Linked DNA regions of Homo sapiens: region 2 is linked to region 1. Evidence: fine-mapped expression QTL. A gene starts in region 1. The other region holds a variant in brackets. All regions are shown on one strand. Distances are between the middles of the regions. Region 1 holds the start of LINC02822 (long intergenic non-protein coding RNA 2822). Region 2 has its middle 71 kb from the start of LINC02822.

Region 1 (13,306 bases):
CAAACTATATCAGGCAGCAAAACTTATCATATTCTGACTGACACACCCTTTCTACAAATGATGAGATATCTGAGAGAAGGCCCACATTATTTCTTCCATTATTACCTTATCCCCTTCAACCTAAGCATCCCAAAACTGGTATGTAGTGAGTGTTCAGTAAGTGATAATTGATTCCAATAATGCAATGAATTTTTTGTCAGTCAGTATGCACAACAAGAAAGAGAATCAATCTTGCCTAATCCCCAAAGGCTTAAAATGTAGTTGAAGAGCTAGCACATCCAAAATACATTTTCTACTTGGCAAGTTGGTGTTGCTATTTACATTCAGACAAAACACAGGTCAGTCTATATTGAGCCGGTCAAGAAAAATTTCTTACTTGAGCTGAAACTGGAAACAAAAGGGACAGAGATGATCTGGGAGGAAGAAGGACGACAGCATTCATGTAAGAAGAAACTCATAAGCAAGGATGCAGAAGCATAAATATTAGGAAAAAAGAGTGTATTGTTTCCATAATAAAACAAAAACCAGAAAAGAAATTGCATGTGGTAAAGAAAAATAACAGTAAAGCAAAAAAAGAAAAACCAATTAACTCCATGTTGCTAATTTATTTGTGACTTTTCAGATTCATATGAGCTGTGCAATGATAACACGTGGATTCCCTGACAAGTTTTGCTTTTCAATAATTTTTCTGCAATTATACAAACATGGGTTTTATTCTGACAATTTAAGCTTTGATATATTTTGATTTATTGACTATCAGAGATAAATATTGGAGACAAATCAGTAATGAGCACAATATTTCAATTTTTAACAATTTAGTTAATTACCTGTGATTTTACTACCACATACTGCATCTACTCCATCTTGGTACCAACTAAAAAAATATTATGTAAGAATGACTTCTGTCACACTAGTTCTGTTTATACTTAACCATTCTGAACCCTATCACTGTGTTCTCAACTTGCACCTGACTGACCCATACCTGTGTTCCTCTAGCTCTGCCTTGGATCTTTGTTTTCAGGCTCTCAGATTTTATAATGTTATAAATCCCCTGTCACTAATCTTTAGTTCTCCTCTCACGTGTATGTGTGTGTGAGAGAGTGTATACATGTTGGAAAATTATACTACTTTCACTCGTTTCATTTTGTTGGTATATCTCACTCTGACGCATTTCTACAGTCTGGGTCACTACCTTTGCATGGCTTATGCAGAAGTAGGATCAGGACACTATAAGCATCAGGAAACTATAAGCATCACACCATGCATTCATGTTCATGTAGTTCTTAAATACAATGTAAAATAGTATAGAGAAGTGACCTTGGGCTTGAATTCTGGAGTCAGCGCCCGCCTAGGCTTGATAACTACTTTGCTACTTGCTAACTATGCATCCTTGAATCCTTGTGCATCCAAGCTAGTTATCATCTTTATGTTTCTATTTCCTCTTCAGTAAGAAATGTTTAATAATATTACTAACCTCATAGGATTGTTGTGGGGCTAACTGAAAAATTTAGCATAAAGTGCCTATTAGAGGAGTCTGGCACTTCCATATATTTACGATTCTTGATTAATTTGATCAAAGTTGCCAGTCTTGATCATATTCTTATAAAACAAAGACAAGTTCATTTGTAGGTCTGAAATAATTCATCTCAGAAAAACAATTATAGAGGTTCCACTCCGAGCAATATATCCTCGTCAATGAATCATGCTACTATATTTAACTCTTAGCCTACCAGCTCTTGACAGAAAGTTTCTTGTTTTGGAAATTGGAACTTTATAAATCTAGGGAATCTTTCCAAAATCTTTGTCTTTTTAGGGGATCTCACATAAGAAAAATCCAAAATCCCCATGCAGAAGAAGGTATGAGAACAGTTCTAGAAAGTTTATTGTTTAGCTATTTAGCTTTGCTTTCCAAAAATTTTCTTCTTTCACACATACACACTCATTCTGAAATTGTCCTTCATTGATCTCTTATTATGTGCTAATCTTCCAAATTATAAAATAATACTCAGAATTATCACAATTACATGTGTTCCTGGTGGTTCACATGATTATAATAATCATTTCATCATGCCACTAAAATATTAATAATCCAATGATTATAATCATCTTTCATTACTAATCACTTCATAGTCTACCACCTAACACCACATAATGTAACACAGAAAATGACAAAGATTGCTCTGGATTTCTTTTCCTTCCAGAAGGTTATTTCAGTGGTTTAAAAGGAAAACATATGTATGCTAACTGCACTGAAGCTAACTGTTCAAGTTCTCCTAGGGAGTTAATTTTTTATGTGACAATATGCCTATTATTAGTTCTTATATATTAGCCTTTAGTAAATAGTACTTATTCTGTCTGCATATCTTGACAATGATTTCTTCCCACATTTGCAGCCACCCACTGAGACAATCATTGCCACTATTCAAACACACAACAAACTAAGGTTTTATTACTTTAATTTTCCAAACAAATTATACTGTGCTAAATTACAACACATGGAAATAATTCTTAAAAGACAAAGAAAACAGCAGATTTTGCATTTTTATTAAATGAACTATCTGTAATTTCAAATTATGGCTTATATTGAGTATTGTCCAAACGTGCATACACATGTGTGACTCACTTTCAGCAAGCATCGAAGTTTTCTGAACCCTGATGAAATTAAATAAACTCTCTAAATTGTCCTCATCCTGGTGTTTTATACTCAATAAATTTGGACTCTAAGCAATAACTGATAATCACAAGGAATTTGCACTCTCCACTAGTGTACTTATGTTTGGCAATTTAAGCTTTATATATACTTACATATATGTCAGTAAAATTTGTAACTCCAAACTATAGAATGCACCTTCTATGTTTATTTTAGCACTGCAAAATAGCCTTACAAACATGAAAAAAATCTGTCATAGAGAATATTTTGTTACTTGAATTGTCACAGAACAACATTAGGTTAAGAGCTTAAATGTGCTCTAAAAGTTAACAGTGGGAGATTATACTAATATCAAAGAGCTCAAAGCAGGAAATGTCCTTTAACAGTTTCTGCATTTCTCCATGATATTCACGAGAACAGCTATGGTCCAGGAAAAGATGGCAAAGTACGCTGTCAAATTTTAGTTTAAAGAAATTATAAAGGCTGGGCACAGTGGCTTGCACCTGTAATCCCAGCACTTTGGGAGGCTGAGGCGGGTGGATCACCTGAGCTCAGGAGTTCGAGACCAGCCTGACCGGTATGGTGAAACCCCATCTCTACTAAAAATACAAAAAATTAGCTGGATGTGGTGGCGTGTACCTGTAGTCCCAGCTACTCGGGAGGCTGAGACAGGAGAATTGCTCGAACCTGGGAGGCAGAGGTTGCAGTGAGCTGAGATCACTACACTCCAGCTTGGGTGACAGAGCGAGACTCTGTCTCAAAAAAATAAAAAATAAAAAATAAAAGATTTTGTCAAGCATTATCATTTCCAGTCCCACTAATTTTCACAGTGTTTTAAGAAAGAAGCTCAGCTTTGGAAACAAAACAGTGGGAGCTTTTTAGGATACCAATTCAAATGCCACCCAGCTGAGTAATGATCTGGTTGTCCTTACTAAAGTTATTATTTCATGGTTGCTCAGTGAATAATGTCATTTAAAATGACCACATCTTTTAGTTCACTCCTATATGGACAAATGCCACCATTCAAACATCATCACCATGTTACCAGTTATTTCTGAGAAGCTATTGAACACTTCAATGCTTTATTCATGTTTAATAAAAGATAGAAAGACAGAGGGAATGGTTCAATGCTGTTGTTTGCCCTGTGAAAGCAATTGATTACTGCTAATTTTCCTGCCCCGGTGGTGTCCATTCAGTGGCCAATTTCACAAAATTTAGAGCAGCTGGTCTCAATTTTTGCTGTGCATGGAACTACCTAGGGAGCTTTTAAAATTATATAATACTGAGCTTTAACCCAAAGCTACTGAATAAGAATCTCCAAGAGTTATTGTCATGAAGTTACATTTAAACATACTCTCTAAATAATTTTATTGCAGCTGCACATGGACTGGCCTTTGGGATCCATTGACTTAAAGGATTCATTTTGAAATCAGCCTCAAACTGTATCTTTGATGCTTTCTAGCTGAATAATCTTCAAGTCCCAATGTTTTTTGAACTTCTTTATCAATAAAATGGAGATAGTATCCTTTTTTAATTGTTGTAAGGACTACATGAGAAACACAAGAAATCTGTCTAAACAGTTTATAGCATAGATTGTGGCAGAAATGGCTATGTGTTCACCAAAATTCATTTCCTTTTATTTATAGGGATACAGATAGATTACATTTTCTAGCCCACCTTTTGGTTAGTTGCGTTCATGTGATTAAGTTCAAGCCAGTGGAATGCAACAGAAGGAATGTGAACCACTTCTAGGTTGGGACCATAACGACCTCCACATGAAACTGTATGATCGTTTCCCAATCTGGCTGGTTGCAGGAGGTAGCCTACAGAGTCACCTCGAGATTCAGATATTGAACATGGGAATTTCACAAGATGAAACAAACGATCGTGGGGAAAGCCAACCACCAATAACCTTCATTTGTGTTAAACATCTATAAATTGGAGTTTATTACAGCAGTTAGTACCCCATGTTTTCTGTTGAATTCTTTTAATTTTCTTTTGAAATGACAGTAACATTTGAAAGACCGTTTGTCTTCATTTATCTGTCCATTACGATATGTCTGATTTATCAGTTGTGGAGATTGCCAGGAATTCCAATGCTCACAACAAACAATGAGCACCTTGCAGATTCCTGAGGCAATAATAATGATCCAGTGTGTCAGGGTTCTCCCCTTAAAGGAGATCACCAGTCACCAGGCACATGATCCCAGGGCATCTGCCTTTCAAAATTAAAAAAAGCAAGACAAATTTACACATAGTGGAATATTATTAGGCAATTTATTGGAATTCAAGACACTACAAGACACTACAGGTACTCACCATACACTATGTCATTTATGTAAAAAACTATTTATGAGAAGTTGCTCCTGAGGCCACAGTGAAAATACTTCTCTCTTCATTGCTGTTTTGGATTTTATTTCTCTCCTCCTCTACCTACTATTATACGCAGCTCTTACTTTCATATCAACTCTAACATTCTGATATTACATGGGGCTGATCCAGGAGGACGACACTTTGGGAAGGACAGGAATGATGTGAAAGAGAAGGTACAGGGAAAAATAACATAAATATTAAAAAATAATTTCGAGGCCTCCTCTCTCATCTCTAAGGTCTCCGGGTAGCATGTTCAATGCCCTATACTGTTTTCCTCAGTTCACTCACATAGCTTCAACATTATCTTACCTCCTACTTTCCTTCAGGCTCAGGTCATTTGATGTAATTCCATAGAGAGACACAATCTCTGGTTTTCACCATTTTGTCAGGGGTAATTAAATATTAAGTTATTTTATACTCAAAGGCCCATTTTAGCAAACCTCTATGATTTGTTTTTTCCTATAGGATCTAAGTTGGAGGTCACAGATATAGTTCATCTCACTTGCTAACTAATAAATCATTAGTGACTCTTTGGAGTGCTATGTTTAGAAAGGTTTAAGACCAATGTGTTGTCTCAGCAAGAAAGAGCCTCATCAATTAGCAGTGTCTTTTGCAGTTGCAGAAAGAGAAGCAATGCATTCATGCCAGAAGTTTGTCTACTGAGGTGTGACACCAAAAATAATAAAAGGATATTAAGAATTATTACTACAAAAATAAAATACAAGTGAGCAATTATTTTTGTCTTTAGGAATGGTAAGGTGTAGGCACGCCTTCACAGAATTAAGAAAGAATCATGCTTCAGATATCCTTTTGAGATCCAAGCAAATTAAAAACCAAAGAAGTCACTTTGGGAGGCCAAGGCGGGCAGATCACAAGGTCAGGAGATCGAGACCATCCTGGCTAACACGGTGAAACTCTGTCTCTACCAAAAATACAAAAAAAAAAAAAAAAAAATTAGCTGGGCGTGGTGGCGGGCGCTTGTCGTCCCAGCTACTCCAGAGGCTGAGGCAAGAGAACGGCGTGAACCCGGGAGGCGGAGCTTGCAGTGATCCTGGGCTACAGAGGCTCTGTCTCAAAAAAAAAAAAGAAAAAAAGAAGAAGAAGAAAAGAAAAAACCAAAGAAGTACAAAGCAGTATTATGATTATGGTGATATATTTTAAATGCCTAAGTTGAACAATTAAAGGTCGATAAATGATATATTTCAATCTTTTCAATATTGTATTTCCATGACTATGTGCAAAAACTTATTTGACGATGAAAGTAGAAGTCAAAATTTGTGACCCTTTATTCATGGAGGCTTGGCCCAATTGGCTCCCTGAATTCCACCACAAAAATGGGCCATGTAATCAGTGTGATGTGTTTCCTTCAGTGGAAGAGAGAATGGGAAATACTTGTGAGAAGGAGGGATGAAAGAGTGAAAGTGGGACCATCAGGTCAATGCCTAAAGCAAGGGAGGTGACTGGAAAATGAATTCAAGGTGGAGGCACATGGTATCTGGGATCCCTGAGCCCCCAAATTCCTTAGACCTTTCCTCCTGGTCTCCCTCCCCGGTGTTTAATATTCCTTGGGTTCTATTTGATCAAGGATTTAGCCACCTCAGCTGCTAACGTTCAAGTTACCTGCTGAATCCTTGACCGCAAATGCCATCAACCAGTACCAGCATTTTGTATCTGGAAATATCCTACTTCTTGTGCTTGACAGAGACAGAGGATGTGGCACAGAAGCCCCTGACCCATTGCTTCAGGAATGTCAACTCAAATGGTATTGTAGAGTGTTTTTCTGGTAGTCCTTCATACTTTGAACATAGTTCTAACCCTTGGACTCATGATTAATGTAATAGAATTTCTGGGCTGAATGGATAATAGCCACTGTATATAACATTGTGGTAAAATATCTGTCAATTTGCAAATAATTGACTTCCAAAAAAAATTTGCGTTGCACCAATTTGTAGCTCATCTCTTTGCTTTCTTTTTTCAGTTATGTAATGGAATTGAATGAAGCAAGTGTCAGATCTACATCTCTACAAACACTCACTTTATCAGTTCAGAGAATAAAGAGATGAATTTAATAATGCCACTGGACACTTATACTCTATCGGATCCTAATAATTTCTCACACTAATGAATTCTTCTATCAACTTCATGTTAATCAAGAGGAGACAGAGCCAAGAAGTGAGTAATTGCTTACTGAATTGTGAAAGCTGGGATGATTTAACTACAGGTAAGTACCACAAAGAGAATGTTTATAACAACCTTTTGTGTTTCATGTACTCAAATATCTTTTTGATGAAAGGGTGACAGCAAAAGGAGCTATTTTTGAGACATACTCTATAATTAGAGTGAGCTAAACATGTCATTTGACTTTATTGTGATTTTTCTTATGATTTGGGAACTTAGAAAATAAAATGCTGTGTACAATATGAAATCATTTCTGTAAAATTTAAAGCACACACTTGTCCATGGTACTGACATATGTTGTAAGAGTGTAAAATCATGCACAAAAAATGCATGCTGTATCAGACTATGCCTATGTCTGGGGAGACAAAAGAATGACATGATGGGCAAGACTTTTGCTGTCAGCTGTATTTACTTTTTTAAAGACGAGATGCAAATGTGGTAAAATACTAGCATATGTTAAACCTATTATATCTTTTATGTTTTATATACTAAAATATTTTAATAGATATTTAAAATATATTTTTAAAAAATGTTTATAAGATTACAATGTCAGAAGAAAGTTTGCTTAACTGTTTTCATACTTTTAGGCAGTAATTATTACATGTGAACTCGATTACCCAGTTGTTTAGTTAAAAAAAAATGCTACTAGCCTTTTAGAGTTAATTGTGAGTTGTATAATCTAATTTTGACACTGTCAAAGTTTTGACTCCACTTCATCTCCTTAATAAGGTGCCATTTGTTACCTAATATAAAATTCATACATTTTAAATATGAATTTTAACAATTTTCTTAGTATTTAAATTTAGAAATAAGTGATCTCACTGTGAAATATACATATTAGAGAACTTCATGCTACCTTATATTAAGTAAGATTAGAATTGACGGAGATGAAAGTGAATTGTCATAATTGTATCACTGCCTCATTTAGACTTGCTCATATTTTATATTTTATAAAATTATTCTGATTATTTGGAAAGAAAACTGGTGAATGCATGGAATGGATAGAGGAAAAATTTTTCTCTTTCTTTTTTTGAGAATAGATTTTAGTTAGCGTAGAAAATTTTCATACACTAAAGTATGAAGAAACACATTAAAATTTGGTACCTGAATTTCTGAGGACAAGGACTAAGATAGAAAATAAAATAAAATAATATTAGAATTTTCATTTATATTAATGATGATCACAGAGGGCCTCTAGCCTCCCAATTAGCCAACAACTCTCTAGGATTTTTTTTTTTAAGTTCAGAGTTAAACATAACACTGTATCTTGAAGTCTACTAAAATAGTGCTTTATTTTTTCACTTAAAATTTTAGGCTAGATGTTATAAAGCACATTCAAATGCAGTCCTTAAGCTTCCTACTGTTCACAGAACTTAAATGAAGGTTGTTTTTAGAATTCCACTTATTTACTACTTTGCTATAAGCAACTGATCAACATCAACACAGATTTAATAAGAACCTTAATTTCACATAAGACTGTATACGATGAAACAGAAGGAAAACAATTAGAGCAATTATCATTGCCTACATCATCCTGATTATCATTATTATAATGATTGACATTTACACTCTTCACAGATTACAAAGTGCTTTCATCTTCAATGCTTCTCTGTACCTCACGATCACCTGGTAAATAGGTATAACACATATTATCTGTTCCCACTCGAGCTGGAAAAGCTGGCAAATACATCATTGTCTCTATGTTTCCTGGCATTGTAAGAGACAAATGAAAAAGAGGGATATATTATGGGAGGGAGGAAAGAAGTTAAGAAGATGTGCTACTGGCTGAACAATGGGACTATGTCTATTTTAAGATGATTCTCCACAGGTTTCTAACATATAGTTAATAATAGTTTCAATAAACATACATGGGAAAATATACACCTTGTACTTATTATGAAAACACTTATATTTATATAATAGGGGAGGCAATGTTATGATAATAAATTTGCATGTATCCCTCACCAATCTTGTTCTATTTCCCCACACACACTCCACATAACACAAACTGGATAATTTTGAAGCAAATCTTAGATATCATATTATTTCATTCAGGAAAATGCAAATACACATTATAAAGGAAGCTAACTCCATTTGAATTGAATGTGAATTTAAACAGAAGAAGTAATTATTTGATTCAATTACTCAAAATTAATATTTTTATTTGGAAATTATTCATTTTCAAACTCCTGGATGAATTTGGCCGACTCTTGCATGAGGAATACATTCTACCTGAAATGTGATAATCTCATAAAATATCATAAACTCTCCCTGAGGCTAACTATAAATCTTATATATATATATATACGTATATATATACACATATATACATATATATGCACATATATACATATATTCACACATATATACACATATATACATATATACACACGTATATATATACACACATATATACACGTATATATATGCATATATATATACATACACACATATATACACGTATATATATGCATATATATATACATACACACATACATATATATATATATTTTTTTTTTGAGACAAGGTCTTGCTCTGTCACCAGGCTGGAGTGCAGTGGCACCATCTCAGCTCACTGCCACCTCCACTTCCCAGGTTCAAGCGATTCTCCCACCTCAGCCTCCCAAATGACTGGGAGTATAGGCATGTGCCACCATGCCCAGCTAATTTTTATATTTTTAGTAGAGACGAGGTTTCACCATGTTGACCAGGATGGTCTCGATCTCTTGACCTTGTGACCTGCCCACCTCAGCCTCCCAAAGTGCTGGGATTACAGGCGTGAGCCACCACGCCTCTTGTATCTTTTTATTTGTCTAAAATCTAGCTTTGGGGGAAAAAGGGTTTAAATGTCCCTTTGATAACTGACAATATGGATAAATTGATATAAACATGATAAAATAATATTAGAGTTTTCATTTATATTAATGATGATCATTCACAGAGGGCATCTAGCCTCCCAATTAGCCAACAACACTCTGGGATTATTTTTTTAAAGTTCAGAGTTAAAATAAACATAACACTGTATCTTGAATAATATTTGATAGATGACCACAGTAAACAGTCATTATACTGTTTTAATGAAAAGAACTACTGTTAGCCAAGACAGCTAGCTTTTAATACTGCCTGCCAGAACTAGCTTTGTGATCTTGGGCCAGTCAGGTAACTTTTTGGATCTTTTATTCTCGTTAATAAAATTGATTATGTTCTATATTACTTCTAAAATGAATAGATATCATAGTATCCAGCTCTCAGTTGTGTTATTATATCTCAAAAATACTTTGTTTCTTACTTCCATTATATATATATACATATATATTCATTATTTTCAGACCAGGCTTCTTTCTTCAGCAGTAACTCTTATTTCATTCAAATAAGCTCTATTCCCTATGCAAGGTAGTTCTGCCAAATCTAGAAAAGGCACAACGATGAACTGAAAGTTGGCAGTAATTAGAGAGGCAAACAAATTTTCAGGAACATAACTTGAATGGCAAAAGCAAAACAATTTTATATCTATCAGGCCTGTAGAATTACATAATCTTAGCTTCCTTAAAATGTAGGATGCAAATTGGCCCTTACTAACTTATTTACTAATAACAAATTGTAAGCATCTATGGCATTTTACTTATTTTTGAAGTTGATAAGTCAGCTTCTTTGTAGTAGACATTTTCTAATTATTCCTTGTTATTGGCCAAAAAAGTTGCCCTGAATGTATCAGGCCATCCCTTAAAACATCAGAAATGGTACTTTAGTTATTGAGAAATACATATTTGATTATAACCATTGGTAATTGACACATACATACACACATATATATTTTATATGTATATATACACACACTATATATACACACACATATAATAGTTAAACATTTAAAATACATTTTCTCACTGCTGTAATATAATGTGAAATATACATGTTAAAAATATAGAGAGATTATTTTTTAGAATTGTTTCAGAGGTTGTTTTTAGAACATACACATATTTAAGAATCTGTTCAGTATACTAAAAAGAAGGAGAAGCAAACTGCAGCATTGTCTGCAAGTTAATTTTAAGAAAGAAGCTCACAAAAACTGTTACACACTTTCCTTGTTAATATAAGCAGTAATGCTTCCTGAGGGTCCTTGAGCGTGTGTTTATCAAATATTTATTTAACACATAACAAAACATAAAAAGAAATTTGAAAATGCTTTTATTGCCCTGTATAAGATTAGTTTTCACTCATATGAATTTTACTTGATCTAGCAATTAGTTCTTGCCAAAATCATTAGGCCTTGACATATTTTTCTGTATGGCTAAGAGTATTGCTACCAAATTTTGTTTCCTAAGAGTTAAGGATAGAGAATTTAAAGATTAGTGAAGCCAGGATTGCTACAAATTCTTTATGCACCTATAACTAAAAACCTCAGAGATGAAATGTTTCTTCTTGGACTACCAAACAGACAGATGCATACATATACTCATAGGCGCATGCACACACACACACACACACACACACACACGCACACACACACACTTTTCCCACTGTAATTCAAGGCATAATTGGAACAAGTTGTTGCCTTTGAAAATAAAAAATAAAAAGTACTTTGAAAAAACATTCTTCTTAGACTTCACCTTGTTTCTACCATCCAGATACAATACATAATAAAATAAAGAATGACTAGGAAATTTTGAGAGACTTGAGGGTGTCTCATAATAGTTAATATGAGTAAATATAGTATTAACTTTAGTCTTTAAGAACTGTAAGACATGACTTTAACATCTTACTATTCAAGATGGGTCTATTGAACTTCTGTGGTAAAAGGTTTAAGAGACCTTAAACCTGTTAAGGCTCTTAAGCTTAAAGGTAAAGACTTTAAGAGACTTTTGCATTCATATCTGTTTTATCAGTCAGCCGTCTTAATCAATTGCATCTTTGGTATAACTTACTGGATAATTTTTAAAAAATTATTTTAGCTATATGTGTATAAAATTGCTGTATACAAAATATACCTTTAGACTTAATTTTTCTATAAGAGGCAAAAGCGAGGATATATTATAATAAAATTACATACCTTTTTAAAGAAAAGTGTGATGTTGGCTTTTATTTATGAGATTTTTTAAAAAAAACCTTTATGCTTATTATTTCCTCTTCAATTATTTAAGGTTAAATTGCATTTTAGAACTCAAATTTGAAACTTCTCCCTGAGTTTCAACCCAATTTTCGGGCAATGAGAACATATTAAGGCTCTCAGTGTGCTACAATAATATTTAATCATATTATAATTATAATAACTTAAGGGATACATCAAAATGTCTCTTTGGAAAAGGTATAGTAGGTTGTGGTAAATAATGATATTTTTTGTAACATACGTGGGAATTTCTTTCTTTCTTTCTTTCTTTCTTTCTTTCTTTCTTTCTTTCTTTCTTTCTTTCTCTCTCTCTCTCTCTTTCTTTTCTTCCTTCCTTCCTTCCTTCCTTCAGCACAAGTGTATAGAACATAAAAATATTTAAATAATCTTTTTATGGGAATGCAAAGAAAGTGGTAGAGGGCAGAGTTGAGGTATCTAGTTCATAAGCTGAACTTGCAACACTTGCCTGGAAGTCTCCCTTACCAAAGATACAACGTTATTTAAAAATCTATTGATTACAGAGCTTAGTAAATTAAAAAAGTCTACGTATTAGTCCGTTCTCACACTGCTATAAAGAACTAACTGTGGCTGGGGAATTTATGAAGAAAAGAGGTTTAATTAACTTACAGTTCCACAGGCTGTACAGGAAGCATGGCTGGGAGACCTTCAGAAACTTAAAATTATGGCAGAAGGTGAGGGGGAAGCAAGCACGTCTTCACATGGCTGTCAGGAGCAGTTGGAGGGAGGTGCTACACACTTTTAAACAAGTAGATCTCCAGATAACTCTATCACAAGAACAGCAATGGGGAGCTCTGCCCCCACGATTCAATCACTTCTCACCAGGCCCCTCCTTCAATACTTGCAATCACAATTCGACATGAGATTTGGGTGGGGATACAGAGCCAAACCATATTAGTCTGTCATATTCATGGTGGCTGTGATGGGTTTGTTGCCAGCCAATGGCAAATTGCTTGCATAAATACATTAATGACATATTT
Region 2 (13,306 bases), 70 kb before region 1:
ACTATAGCCCAAATCAAGCTGGTCCAACCCATGGCCTGTGGACCACATGTGGCCCAGGACAGTTTTGAATGTGGCCCAACCCAAATTCATAAACTTTCTTAAAACATTATGAAATTTTTTTGCAATTTTAAAAAACTCATCAGCTATTTTATGTGTGGCCCAAGACAATTATTCTTCTTCCAATGTGGCCCAGGGAAGCAAAAAGATTGGACACCCCTGCCCCAGAAGTATCCACTTTTCCATGGCACAGTCTCTGACTCTATCAAGATGCCTGGACATTCTGGAGAAAGGCATTCCAGCAGAGTTACAATGATTGACAATATAGTACAATTTCCATCAACACCCACATTGTACTTACTCATAGCAAAAACCTGGAAATAGTGAAACCTTTGAGAAGGAAGGAATTAAAATGGTTTGTGATGCTGCAACATTTACTTAGTCTAGATGTACTTTTCCCGTTTTCACCCAGTTGTTGATTACTTCAACTTTCCTAAATGATACAAATTTCTAAATCAAGGGAGGTTTTCTATCTTAAACTTGTTCATGTTCTTTTCTTTTATTTTCATCATTTGTGATTATTAATGGTATTGGTCATTTTATTAATAGATGATTTCAACAAATACATGATGTGCTTCCATGTGAACATTCCCCAGCAAACTCATGGTCATTAAAATAAACTGGCATCCTATTTTATTAATTTGGTCAGTTTGGGAATCTATGTATCAAGTTTTTGTGAAATAAGCTGAAAAAGGCATATTTCAAAATCCTATCCTTATCTTACTCTATACAGAGTATAATCCAAGGTTGTCTTCCTGACCATTTTGAGGAGCCTCCTAGGGAATAACAAAGTACCCTCCTCAAGAGACATGAATTTAGAGTTTTAGGTCCTATCATGTTGCTAGTAACAGCCAGAACCCCTCCTCCTCACAGTTAATAGAGATAAAGATTCTATAAAGCTGAAAAAGGGGCATGGAATAAAGGTCCTTTGTTATTACCATAATTATTATTAAAATTAAATATGTTATTTAAATATCGTGCCATATACTTGACTCCCTTTAGCTCCAATCCATGGATTCACTGGTACTTATGCTGCATGTAGTTAGCCCTTTTCTCCTGGGGTTGTAGTTTGTTTTCTTCACCTTCTCCTCTATGAAATTCTATTTCTTGAGGTATTCCATCTATCTGTCATAGCACCCATTGACTTTTGCCTGAGCTTCCTGTACCCACACGGGGTCGTCACTCTTCTCTCGTTTTGGATAAAACATCTCAGTGCATAGTGTAGTTTCTGGCTTCTTAGCCACAGAGGGGCAGAATGATGCAACCCAAAAGTTTAGGGCTTGTATCTTGACCAATGAGAAATGCAAGATCAGAGTTGGGAAGATCAATTTTTCTTCCTTACTTTATTTGGTGGACTAGTCTGAATGGCAGTACTTCTTTGCCTTCTGGAGAAGCTCCAGAAGCTGACAAGCCTGCTGAGAGATCTTTTCTGCCTATTCCCAGTTTGTCACAAAGCCACAGCTGGCATGGTGACATATCACATTGCTTTGCTTCGAATATTCCGTTTCACTTGTTTTTTCTTTCCTTACTTTCACCTGTCTGGGCTGGTACCTCCCAAATGTATTATCAACTTCATCTTTGTCTCTGCTTTCTAAAGGGGCCTATTAAGACACTCCTTTTAAGTCCAATTAAGACATTTCCTTTAGAAAAAAATTTTCTAAAGGAAATTTTTAATTCATTGCAGATAAGCTTAGCATTGGAATTATTAGTTTTCATTTAACTTGGGAGCTGCCACAACATTCAGTACTCAAGAGTCTGCTCATATCAACAGCAAGTACCCTATTCTCTTTCACATCTAACCTCTACATGGCCTCCCTTCAATATAACCTATTACCATTACATCTTTCTTCATCATTTGAATAATAGGCCCAGGTATAATTTTCCTGAGTGTGGCATCTCTTCTTGTGAGTGTAACAGAGTAAGAGCTCCTCATTGCAGACAAAGTTCCTTCTTCAGTAGCTTCATTTCCTGTCCTCTGACACACTTGAACCAGAGCCTAAGAGTTGTTTCTAGTCACTTTGCAGTTCAGCTCCTAAACAATCATTTGTTGGGTACAAATCATTTATTTCTGGATCATCAACATATTTTTTTCTAGCATTCAATGGGACATCTTTCACAAGATCTCTGGTTTGCACACATTGCTTTGAAGATCAATTTATTAAGAAATAAACTGTTGAAGATACAACAAACACATCTTTATTTAAAGATAAAAGGAGTAGTTGACAGAAAAATTTACAGACCTACTCTTAGTATGAAATACACGATACTTATTCAGTTTAGCAACAACATTATCATAATCAATACTTAACAAAAGTCCTACAGAAGTTAGTGATTCAGGTTGTCTGGAATGATGGGCTATTGTTTTCTAAAACCAATATCATCCTTTTAAAAGATTGCTAAAATTCTACAATCCTAGTTTCAAATTTCGAATGTCCATGCAAATAGATCTATTTTTGTGCATTTTGGTTCCATTAGTGGAAAATAAACTTGGCTTTTCTTTGTATGAATATCTTCCCTGAAAATTAGAGACTCAGTATTGACTATGTCAGAATCCTCTATGTTTAAGTTACTGTCACAAGTTCTTTTTAAATTTTTTTTCTGATACATTTATCACCATTTTTTGGAAGTAGCAGTTTTAAGTATTAAAATGTCTCTAAAGTGACATAACTGTATTAATCCCAAATTTGTTAGACTTGTGGCAAAAGTCTACGTGAATCTCAGGTGCTATTTTATTGTACACTTAGTGTATATCTTGCATTAAATGTTTGAAAAAAATAAAGAATGAGTAAATTAAAGACTGATGTACATTCTCATAAATTACGTCCAATTATCTTGGAAAATTATGGTAGTTCTGTCTCAAAATTTATCTTAGGTCTAACATTTTTCAATATCATTATCACCCTGAGCCAAGGCACCAATATCTTTTGCTGAAATTGAAAAAATAATAGCATTCTAACTAGTCTCTGTGCATTTGTTGTAACTCCACTATAGTCCAGTCTCAATACTGTAACCAGCATGATCCTTTGTTCAAAGTGGATCATATCACTCTTGCTCAAAATCCCCCAGTGGTTTCTTTCTATCTCACTTACAGTATAAGTCAGCATCCTTGAAACAGTCTAGAAGGCTATATGTGATCTGTCCCACATCACTTGATATCTTCATCTTTTACCATCCTCCCTCTCCACATACATACACCACAACTCATTCTATTTTTACCTTGATAGTCTGTTTACTGTTACTTGAATTTGTCAACCCTATTCTTATTAAAGGGTTTTAGGCTTGCTGTTTTTTCCCCTTACCTGGAATACCTGTGCTTTAGATAACCATATGACCTCCAGTCTCCCTTCCTTCAAGTCTCCACTCAAATGTCTTCTTAGCCACTCTGTATAAAATATAAAACCATCAACATCTAGTCTCTTCCCTGCTTTATTTTTCTTTATAACACTTGTCAAGACATGACTTGTGTGTGTGCATGTTGGTTGTTTTTCTTTTTTATGCTCAAGTTTAATTTTCCAAAGACTATAAAACATTACTCTCAGACAAATGTAAAAAGGATACATGTTAAAATGTTAATTCTATTCCTTGATTAGTAAGACGACCAAGATAATGTTAAAACTTGCATAAAAGCATTGGGTAGAAATAGGCACTTTAATAAAGAAATATCACAATAAGAAGTTGGGTTATACAGGATTATTAATGTATGGCAGAAAAATAAAATGTAACCTTTGGCACTATCTAGTTCATTGGATGGAAATCATTTACGTCTTTATTGGACAAAAGTTTATGAGTTAACCTCTGCCCAACAGAGTTGTAAAATAGCCTTATTGACAGTAAGTCAAGCCCAAAACTGCACTGAAAGGAAACTCACTAATCTCTTTGCCTATTTCCAAGTTGTAAATAATTTTTCTCACTTCTAACATCTGGGAATTTGCTTTTTCACTTCTATATCCCCACATCTTTCAACAACAATGAGCAGTTAGTATGCTTTTGTCTTAGTTTATCTCCCAGAAATAGACTTGAAGCAAGAATTTGATTTCCTAAAGTTTGAGAGGTCATCCAGAAAAACTAGTAGGGAAGTGAGGAAATGAGATAGGGAAGAGAAGGAAGCCCAAATGAGTGAAACAATAGGCAGGTTATCAATCCAGAAGATGGGAGTTTAGTTCCCTGGAGCAATGTGAGAGTCAGCGCAGAAAATAGCTCTGAATTATTCCAGCTAGAGAATGAAGGACCTATGGTGTTTATTTACCAAATCTTTGACTATAATCCACTGAGGCCTGCTCCTAGAAATGTTACCTTTATTTTATGTCTAGTTTTCCCTGAGTGAAGGCTGATATGTTTCTCAGGCAAAACTAAACACAAAACAGCAAAAACAAACAAACAAACAAAAAACAAAAACCTTCCATCAGAGGGTTCAGGTATTTTCACTAAGCAGCTTTCGGCAGTTGGGTCCCAAGGGGAAATGGGTGGGGCATTGACAATATCTGATATGGTGTTCCATATAGAAAAAGTACAATTGAAGGAATAAATGAATGAAATGTTTCTAAGGATTTTGTAATTGGGACACCACAGGAAGTGATATGAAGATCTTGGAAACCTATCAGCTTTCTTGCCTAGTTGACAGAGCAGAACAAAACTTTAGGGTCTGGTACCAGAGAGACTAGGTTTATGTCATTCTAGCTATATGAGCTGGGTCAGGTGACTTAACTTCTCGAAAATTCAATTTTCTAACCTCTAAAAATTGAGATAATCTTTTATGTTTTGCAATTGGGGAAGAGGACTCAAACTATTTTAGATAAAAAGCATTTTCTAAGATCATCCAACTTACTTGTTTGGTTTAACAAGAGATGCAGTGATCATAGTTTGATCATCATTGTTTTTCAATGTAAATATGCTTCTAATGAAAAACTCTCAGATCACTAAGAGTATTATGTTTCTAGTTAAAGTTATGTGCTTTATAGGTTAATTTTCAAAATGCGACTTTTGTTTTATTCATACGTTTCTATGGGTCAGTGAGACTGATGAAATTGCAATGTTGAGGATAAGAGCAGAACTTTCTTAAATGCCACCCTGTGAGGACTTTTCAGAGACAGCTGATCGCTTCTGTCTTTTGTCTTCATGCAAAGCATCGCCAATAAATTCATGTGCCCCAAAGACATGGGATATTCCCAATTTAGAAATGAATGGAAGAAGGGAATATGTAAGAATTCTGAGGAAAATATATTAAAAAATACCAGTATCTCACCTGAAATAAGAAAAGTTGGACTCAGTAATTTGGACTTTCTTGTTTTCAGTGTAAACTGGAGGAAGGAAGAAAAATAATAAAAATTCATAAGTAATTTCTAGCGGGAAAGGCAGAGCCTCTGAGGAAGGGAGGGTAAGAAGAGAAGAGAACCTAAAGTCTTAGTTTTAGATGATCTCCTCTGAGACGAATTATTCTGTGTGCAAGCGATTAATAAAATATAAAGACAATAGATATACATTTTCAAATATTCAAGAACCCATAACCTAATAAACCCTGGGACTATCCTGGATAACATGAATAAACAAAAGAAGCAAAACCAACAAACTACAAAGTAACCATAATCATGGTCTAATGGAACAATGGTGATCTTTGGATCTGTTTAAATGGAGCCCTCAGTCTAAATACAGGTAAATATTATTACAAAACTATATACTATAAATCTAGACAATTTAAAAATACTAAATAAAATTAAAACTCTGTATATGAAAAACTGAAAGAGAGGAGAAAGATAAAGACAGTAATTTTCTCATCTGGTTTAGTAGAATATAGATATTACCTAAGGTGAAAAAGTCAAGAAATATAGGTTAGTTATGCTATTTGAAGTCATCAACAAAATAAGAGAATGAAAATCCCTCTCATTAGAATGGGAAGCCATATTACC[TA/T]AAAAAAAAAAAAAAAGAAATAGAGTTTCATATATATTAAATAAAATTTTAAAGGTAACTACTATAAAATGGAATCAAAATAAATAATATGATGATCTGAATTACCATTAGAAAAATCACCCAGCTACAGGACAAAAGGAATTTTGTCTGCTGGGTTCACTCTTATCATCTCAGCTCGTAGAATATTGCCATCTGTAAATAGTAGCCACTTAAATATATAATGAGTGTATCAACAAGAAAAAAACAGGATCAATACAGTTACCAAATATGGAAATAAAATAAAGTTTTAAAATCAGAGAATATAAAATAAAATGCTGAAATTAAAAGTCAAGACACATCTCTTATAACAAGACATATAAATAGAATAAACCCACCTCCTAAAAGTAGTCTCATGTGGAGTCAAAAATCAAAACCTAAGGATATTTTGTCTCACTATGAAGATGTCTAAAACAAAAACCTTAAAAATATTACAAGTGAAAAGAAGTTCATAGCTTGAATATGGACGAGAAGGGAGGAAAATAAGAAAAATTAGAGATAACACATAGTTTGTTGTTATGATGGTTAATTGTGGTATATATATTTAGATGTGAAGATGTTTTTAAAAAGTAGGTTCAGGGAGTAAGGGAGAATTTGGATAACTTTATCCACCTTAATTTTGAGATTCTACTAGATACCTAAGCGGAGATATAAAGTAGGAATTATAAAATGTAAGTCTGGATTTCTGGAGATAAGCCAGTGATTTAAATATAAATTTGGAAATCATTAACAAATATATGACACCTTAGACATTTTGAGCTAATATAATAAGATACTATAGGTTGGAGAACTTATAAATATCACAAATCTATTTCTCACAGTTCTGGACGCTGGAAGTTCGAGATCAAGCATTCTGGAGCATGTTCTCTTCTGTGTTGCAGACTGCTGACTTCTTGTTGTGTCCTCAAATGGGAAAAAGAGGGCTAGAGAGCTCTCTGGGTTCTCTTCTATCAGGGCACAATCCCTTTCATGAGGGCTCTACCGTCATAACTCCATTGCCTGCAAAAGGCCTTACCTCCTAATACCATCACATTGGAGGTTAAGATTTCAATATATGAATTTTGGGTGAACACAAACATTCAGCCCATTGCATATGATATTCAAAGTCACGAATTAGCTAAGCTCACCCAGCAAAAGTGTGTATACAGAGATGTTCAGTATGGAGTAATTCCAGATTTAAAGCTTCAACAGAAGAGAAGGAGCCAGGAAAGGAGTTTAAGAAGGGAGAGTCCATAGAGATACATGGAAAAGCAAAAGTGTGCAATTTTCTGAATTACTCAGACCTTCATCTCTGCCACTTTACCATGTCCATTCATTTTAACATCACTAATGATGGTTAGGTTGCCAAATCTAAAGGTTTCTTCTCATTTATACTTGATATTGCAGCAACATTTAACAGGGATGACCATACTTACCTTCTGAAAACACTTTCTTCTTGTAGTATCTGGAAAACAAGATCCCCAGGGAGTGACATTTCTCTCTGAAGGAAGATCCAGAGGTTAAAGATGCTGCTCAGTTCCCTTAGAAGATAGCCTGCATCCCTATTCCTTGAGTCACTCCCAAGAAGAGAAAGTAACCCCAGAGGTGTTGAACAGATGGCTAAAGTTGTGCAGAATTGGTGATGCCTGGCATTTAATTAGAGGCGTTGATCGAGGAATTCCTGTTATAACCTCCAGGGAAGGATTCCCATTCCACAGAAGCAGCATACCCAGGATGCCAATCCACATCATGGTTCAGGGTCAATAAGAAAGATAGAACTCACACATGCACTGGATGGAACATGGCTTTACCCACATAGAGGAGACAGAACAAGATTAGCTTCAATAGTGGGTGCCAATCCTTGTGGCTCAGGGGGTTGTATTGCAGCCAATGCACACTGATTAACTACATGCACTCCTCTTGTTCTGCAAGTGAAGGAACCTATTTCCTCCCGCAGCTAAGAATGGGTTATGGTGGTAGAGTTGGCCTGGTATCACGTGAAGCAAATGCTTAAATAGAAAGACAAAGTTATTATTGGATCTGAAACAGGCAAATATATTCCCACACAAAGTTATAATCCCAGCACAGGCTTTGAGGTCTCCCTATCTCTTGGTTAGGAAGCATTCCAGGCCCAAAGCCCATTCTTATGTTGCAGAGCAGAATTGAAAGATTGCAGGCATGTGACTGCCTTTCCCGGCAAGAAAGTTGGAGATAGCACTTCTCAAACCTCTGAATCTTCTTCCCTATTATGTACCAAGGTAAGGACTTCACTCAGGAACATCCTTGAAGTGTCCTCCTAGCTCCGTGGCTTCCCCATGGATGACTAGCTGAGGATTTTGTGGCTGCTGTATTGCAGCTCAACTTCTCCCCATGCCCTCTCTTACTTCCTTCCCTTGTCTATGTGAGTTGTTCTAGAAAGCATTGCCCAATAAACCTCCCCCATGCAAACTCCACCAGAGCCCATTTCCCAGAGAATGAACCTAAGGCAGATTTGATGTGATTGGTTTTCTCATGGAAACCAGTACAAGGAAAGGGAGCCTTCTTCATTCTCATGATACTGGGCTCATTTTTATACAGAACTGATGAAATAGGATCATGTAGAAGGAGAAAAGCACAAGGAAATAATATATGGAAATATGTCTTTGTTTAGAGTCTTTTTTTTCTGAAGTCAAACTGCCTGGGTGACCATCCCAATTTTACCAACCACAGGTTGTGTGAAATTGGAAAAATTACTTTACCTCCCTCTGCCTTGGGTTTCTCATGTGGAAATTGGGAACAATGATAGTATTTTCTTCATAAGGTTGCTATGAAGATTAAATTAGTTAATACATGTAAAAGTGCTTAGCATAGCCTTACATTTAGTAAGTGCTGTGTAAGTATTGTTTCTTATATATATATATGTACATATATATGTGTGTATATATATATATATACGTATATATATATATGCACAACATGCAGGTTTGTTACATATGTATACATGTGCCATTTGGTGTGCTGCACCCATTAACTGGTCATTTACATTAGGTACATCTCGTAATGCTATCCCTCCCCTGCTCCCCCCACCCCACAACAGGCCCCGGTGTGTGATGTTCCCCTTCCTGTGTCCATGTGTTCTCATTGTTCAATTTCCACCTGTGAGTGAGAACATGTGGTGTTTGGTTTTTTGTCCTTGCTATAGTTTGCTGAGAATGATGGTTTCCAGCTTCATCCATGTCCCTAAAAAGGACATGAACTCATCATTTTTTATGGCTGCATAGTATTCCATGGTGTATATGTGCCACATTTTCTTAATCCAGTCTATCATTGTTGGACATTTGGGTTGGTTCCAAGTCTTTGCTATTGTGAGTAGTGCTACAATAAACATATGTGTGCATGTGTCTTTATAGCAGCATGATTTATATTCCTTTGGGTATATACCCAGTAATGGGATGACTGGGTCAAATGGTATTTCTAGGTCTAGATCCCTGAGGAATCACCACACTGTCTTCCACAGGAAATACAGTATTGTTTCTATAGTTGAAATCTTGAAGAGTGTTCTAGATAGTTTAGGCTCTGCAAATAAGTTCAGGCCAAATTCAGCCATCTCTGAGGAGCAGACACTACTAGTGGCAAATGTGTTATATACTATCATTATACTTATGTCATACATTTATTTAACATAAGATTTCATTTAATTGCTGACAGTCCTCTCTCTTCTTCCCTTGTTCTATTTTCTATCACATACTGCCAAATTTAAGAGAATGCATATTTGTTCTATAGCATGCAATGACTAAACAATAAAGGCAGCACTGGAAAATGTCTGTGCCTTAGCATTAGAAAAAAATAGTGTAAATCCTGGCTCTGCCATGCAACAACTGCATTACATAAGGGTGGGCAAACCACTTAACTGCCCTGGTCTTCATTTTTCTCAGCATAAAATAGATATAAATGCTTTTTCATAAGGCTGAGTCTAATACAGTGACTGACACGTATTAAGTGCTATTACTATTATTTTAGATAAGTCTTTCCACTGAGAATTCTTTCAGTCCATGACTTCAAGGAATTCTTACTCATTGGGTCTTATTTTTACCTTCTGAAAATTTTGCTAATCAAAATCATCAGCAACAGTAGATACTATTTTCATTATTAGTATAATTGCTAAAATTTATAGAGTACTTACTGTATACCAGAACCTAGTTAGAGATTTGTATGCTTTATAATACCAGACATTAAATCATTTGCATGTTTTAATTTATTTACTTTTTACAACAAAGTTATTGAATAGACCATCTCAGTTTCCCATATTGGATTAAGTAATTTTTCTAAGATTATACAGCTTATAGCATACAGATGCTTGGAAAAATACGTTGGTTGCTTACTTGTAATGTAGTTTCCTTTCATCCTGGATCCTCAGTGGATTCACAATGAAGAATGATACTGTCTTTCAGTGGCCCACACTTGATTTTCTCCCTTTGATATTTGTGGGTGGTTCTTTCTCTACAACTAATCTCAGCTTATGGCATGTCCAAAAAGCAGGATCATAGGTTTCTATCTCTCCACAAATCAAACAATCAACAGCCTGATTCTTAGACAGAATGGTGTAGAGGACAAAATAGTAGTCTAGGTTGTAGGTTCTCATTTATAGTGAGAGTGTATAAAGAGGACGCAATATCTCTGTAAGCCTCACTTTATCTCATTTGGGAAATAAAATAATTTTTATATAATCAAAGAAGTAAGTGTTCCCAGGGCTAATGTTTTATTTTGACTTTATATTTCTCCTTAAGTCCCTTAGCTTATTCTTGATCACCAAACTTCAGGAAATCCTACTTTTATTCTTTTCCTCCTACCTCTTCCCCCTCCTACCTCTTCCCCCTCCTACCTCTTCCCCCTCCTCTCCATAGAACAAATAAATTGGGGTCTACTCTATAAGTGCTTTTTATTCACAAGGAGTATGGACCCAAAATTAACATTTAACACTTACTAGCCATAGTTAATAACTTCTATTTTTATTTCTGTAGAAATATAATGGACAGATGTATATCTGCTTTAATTTTTTTTAATTTGCATAAATAACTTTTAATCTAAAATTAATATCACCTGCTAACAAGCTGTTAAATATTCTTTTAAGTTATGGGGCAAATTGTTACTAAAACAAGGGAGACAAAATTTAAGCAGAAAATTGAAGAGGATTTTTTATATTGCATTATTCCAACAGGTTTAGCAAAATTCCTTCTGTGACCTGACTTGACCTAGAATTATCAGCACTTCATTTACCACCACTGAGTTGTCTTTACTAAAATTCTCTGCCAGGAGCATGTTTCCCTTGAAGAATAATTCGTTCTTGAGGGAGTTTTTTCCTTTAATTGTACAAACTCTTTTCATCTATCTCTATTCCCATGACACATCCTACAAATGTAAATTTCATAGTGTCGTATTTTGCATCAAGTAACAAAAGCAGTATTAATGGAAATTATTAAAGAAAGTACATCTATTCAGTAAATATGAATTGAATACCTATTAAGAGCGAATCATTCTGCTGGTTACAAGTGATACAAACATGCAAAAGGCGTTATCACTGAGGAGCTCATGAACTATTAGGAGAGTTAAATACACAAAGAGGCTTGTTTTTCATTGAAACCAGATAACTCCAGAGTGACACTAGGTTCAGAGTTCTGAGAAGGATGAAGAAAGGGAGCTTGGTATAGCATAAGCAGATTGGGGCCAAGAAATTCTTCTAGAAAATTATTAATGCTAAGCTGTTGAAAACAAGAGAGAAAGAAACAAAGGTAAACATTAAGAGGGAAAGAAGGAGAGAAAAAGGACAGAGACAGTGAGGGAGAGAGAGATAGAGAGAGAGAGATCTAATATATTGCGTGAGGAGAAACTAGTTAACATAGTCCAAACAGGACTTTAGCAACATCATAGGTCATAAAATTTAAACTAACAAAAATAACTCTTGTTATCATTACTATTTGGTACTACGAAAAGAAAACAATTATGTCTTTCAGTTGATGGTTTTCAGTAACATGATTATAGTTAACCTCAACCTCAAACTCCTGGGCTCAAGGGATCCTCCTACGTCAGACTCCCAAGCTGCTAGGACTAAAGGTGCATGCCACCATGCTCAGCTATTTTTTTTTTTTAATATTTTGTAGAGATGGGGTCTTGCTATGTTTCCCAGGCTGGTCTTGAGCCCCTGGCCTCAAGTGATTCTTCCACCTTGGCTTCTCAAAGTGCTGGGATTAACTGGCATAAGCCACTGCACCCAGCATTGTTGTGACCATTAATATGATTAGGAATAATTCTATTTGTTTCTATATGTCTTGTCTGTTTTTTGCTATTGATTTTTCTGCCACTTTTTGTATTAAATACATTTTATAATCTATTTTATCTCCTTTGATGTCTTTTTCTTTGAGATGGAGTTTCGCTCTTGTTGCCCAGGCTGGAGTGCAATGGCATGATCTCGGCTCACTGCAACCTCTACCTCCCAGGTTCAAGTGATTCTCCTGCCTCAGCCTCCCGAAAACGCCTGGCTAATTTTTTTTTTTTAAAGAGAGATGGGGTTTCTCCCTGTTGGCCAGGCTGGTCTCAAACTCCTGACCTCAGGTGATACGCCTGCCTCAGCTTCCCAAAGTGCTGGGATTAAAGTTGTGAGCCACCACGTCTGGTCCCTTGATGGCTTTTTAACTTTTTGTTTTGTTACTACAGTGGTTATTTAAGTATTTTATATCTTTAACTTACCATAATCTGCATTCAGTGATATTATAACATTTGATGTATTACAGAATATAGGAATCTTAAAATAGTATGCTTTCATATTTTTCCTTTCATAAGTTTTACTTTTATTTACAATATAAATACTATACTATACTGTTATTGTTTATGTTTAAGCAATGAGCCCTCTGAAAACATCTTTATATTAAAAAAAGTGCTCAATATTTCAGGGATGAAGTAATAAAAGAATGAATGAAAAGACAACATTTTAATTTTTAAATTAATATTGTTTTTGTGCTCTTCCTCTTAGTATTCTGAAGAATTTGATAGACACATTTTGAACATATTAAATGCAAATACAAGAACTATTTTGATATACTTTTTGTTAGTTATTTCATCAATGTCAGTTTTGGGACAGTTTTGAGTGATTTTTTTTCTCCTCAATATGGGTCATATTATCTGCTCCTTTTGCATTATCTGATAAACCCTAATTAGATGCCAGGCATTGTGAAGTTACCTTGTTGGATGCTGAATAGTTCTGTATTTCTAAATGTGTACTTTTGAGCTTTGTCCTGGGATGCAGTTGAGTTACATGGTAAGAGTTTGATCCTTTGGGTTTTTTAATCTTTGTTTG

Evidence for each region. PIP is the estimated chance that this variant, and not a neighbour inherited with it, causes the effect. A credible set is the group of variants that fine-mapping cannot tell apart.
Region 2: its variant is the best candidate, but not a certain one, in a credible set for the expression of LINC02822 in prefrontal cortex (CommonMind, PIP 0.89).

The regions. Positions count from the first base shown.
Region 1 is chr12:90,586,568-90,599,873 of GRCh38, forward strand. It overlaps LINC02822 (long intergenic non-protein coding RNA 2822), which reads left to right and starts at 7,000. Exons shown (of 4, transcript XR_429171.5): 1 at 7,000-7,244.
Region 2 is chr12:90,516,353-90,529,658 of GRCh38, forward strand. No RefSeq gene overlaps it. Among named protein-coding and RNA genes, the nearest start is that of LINC02822, 71 kb to the right of the region's middle. The variant TA/T (reference allele first, on the strand shown) is at 5,961.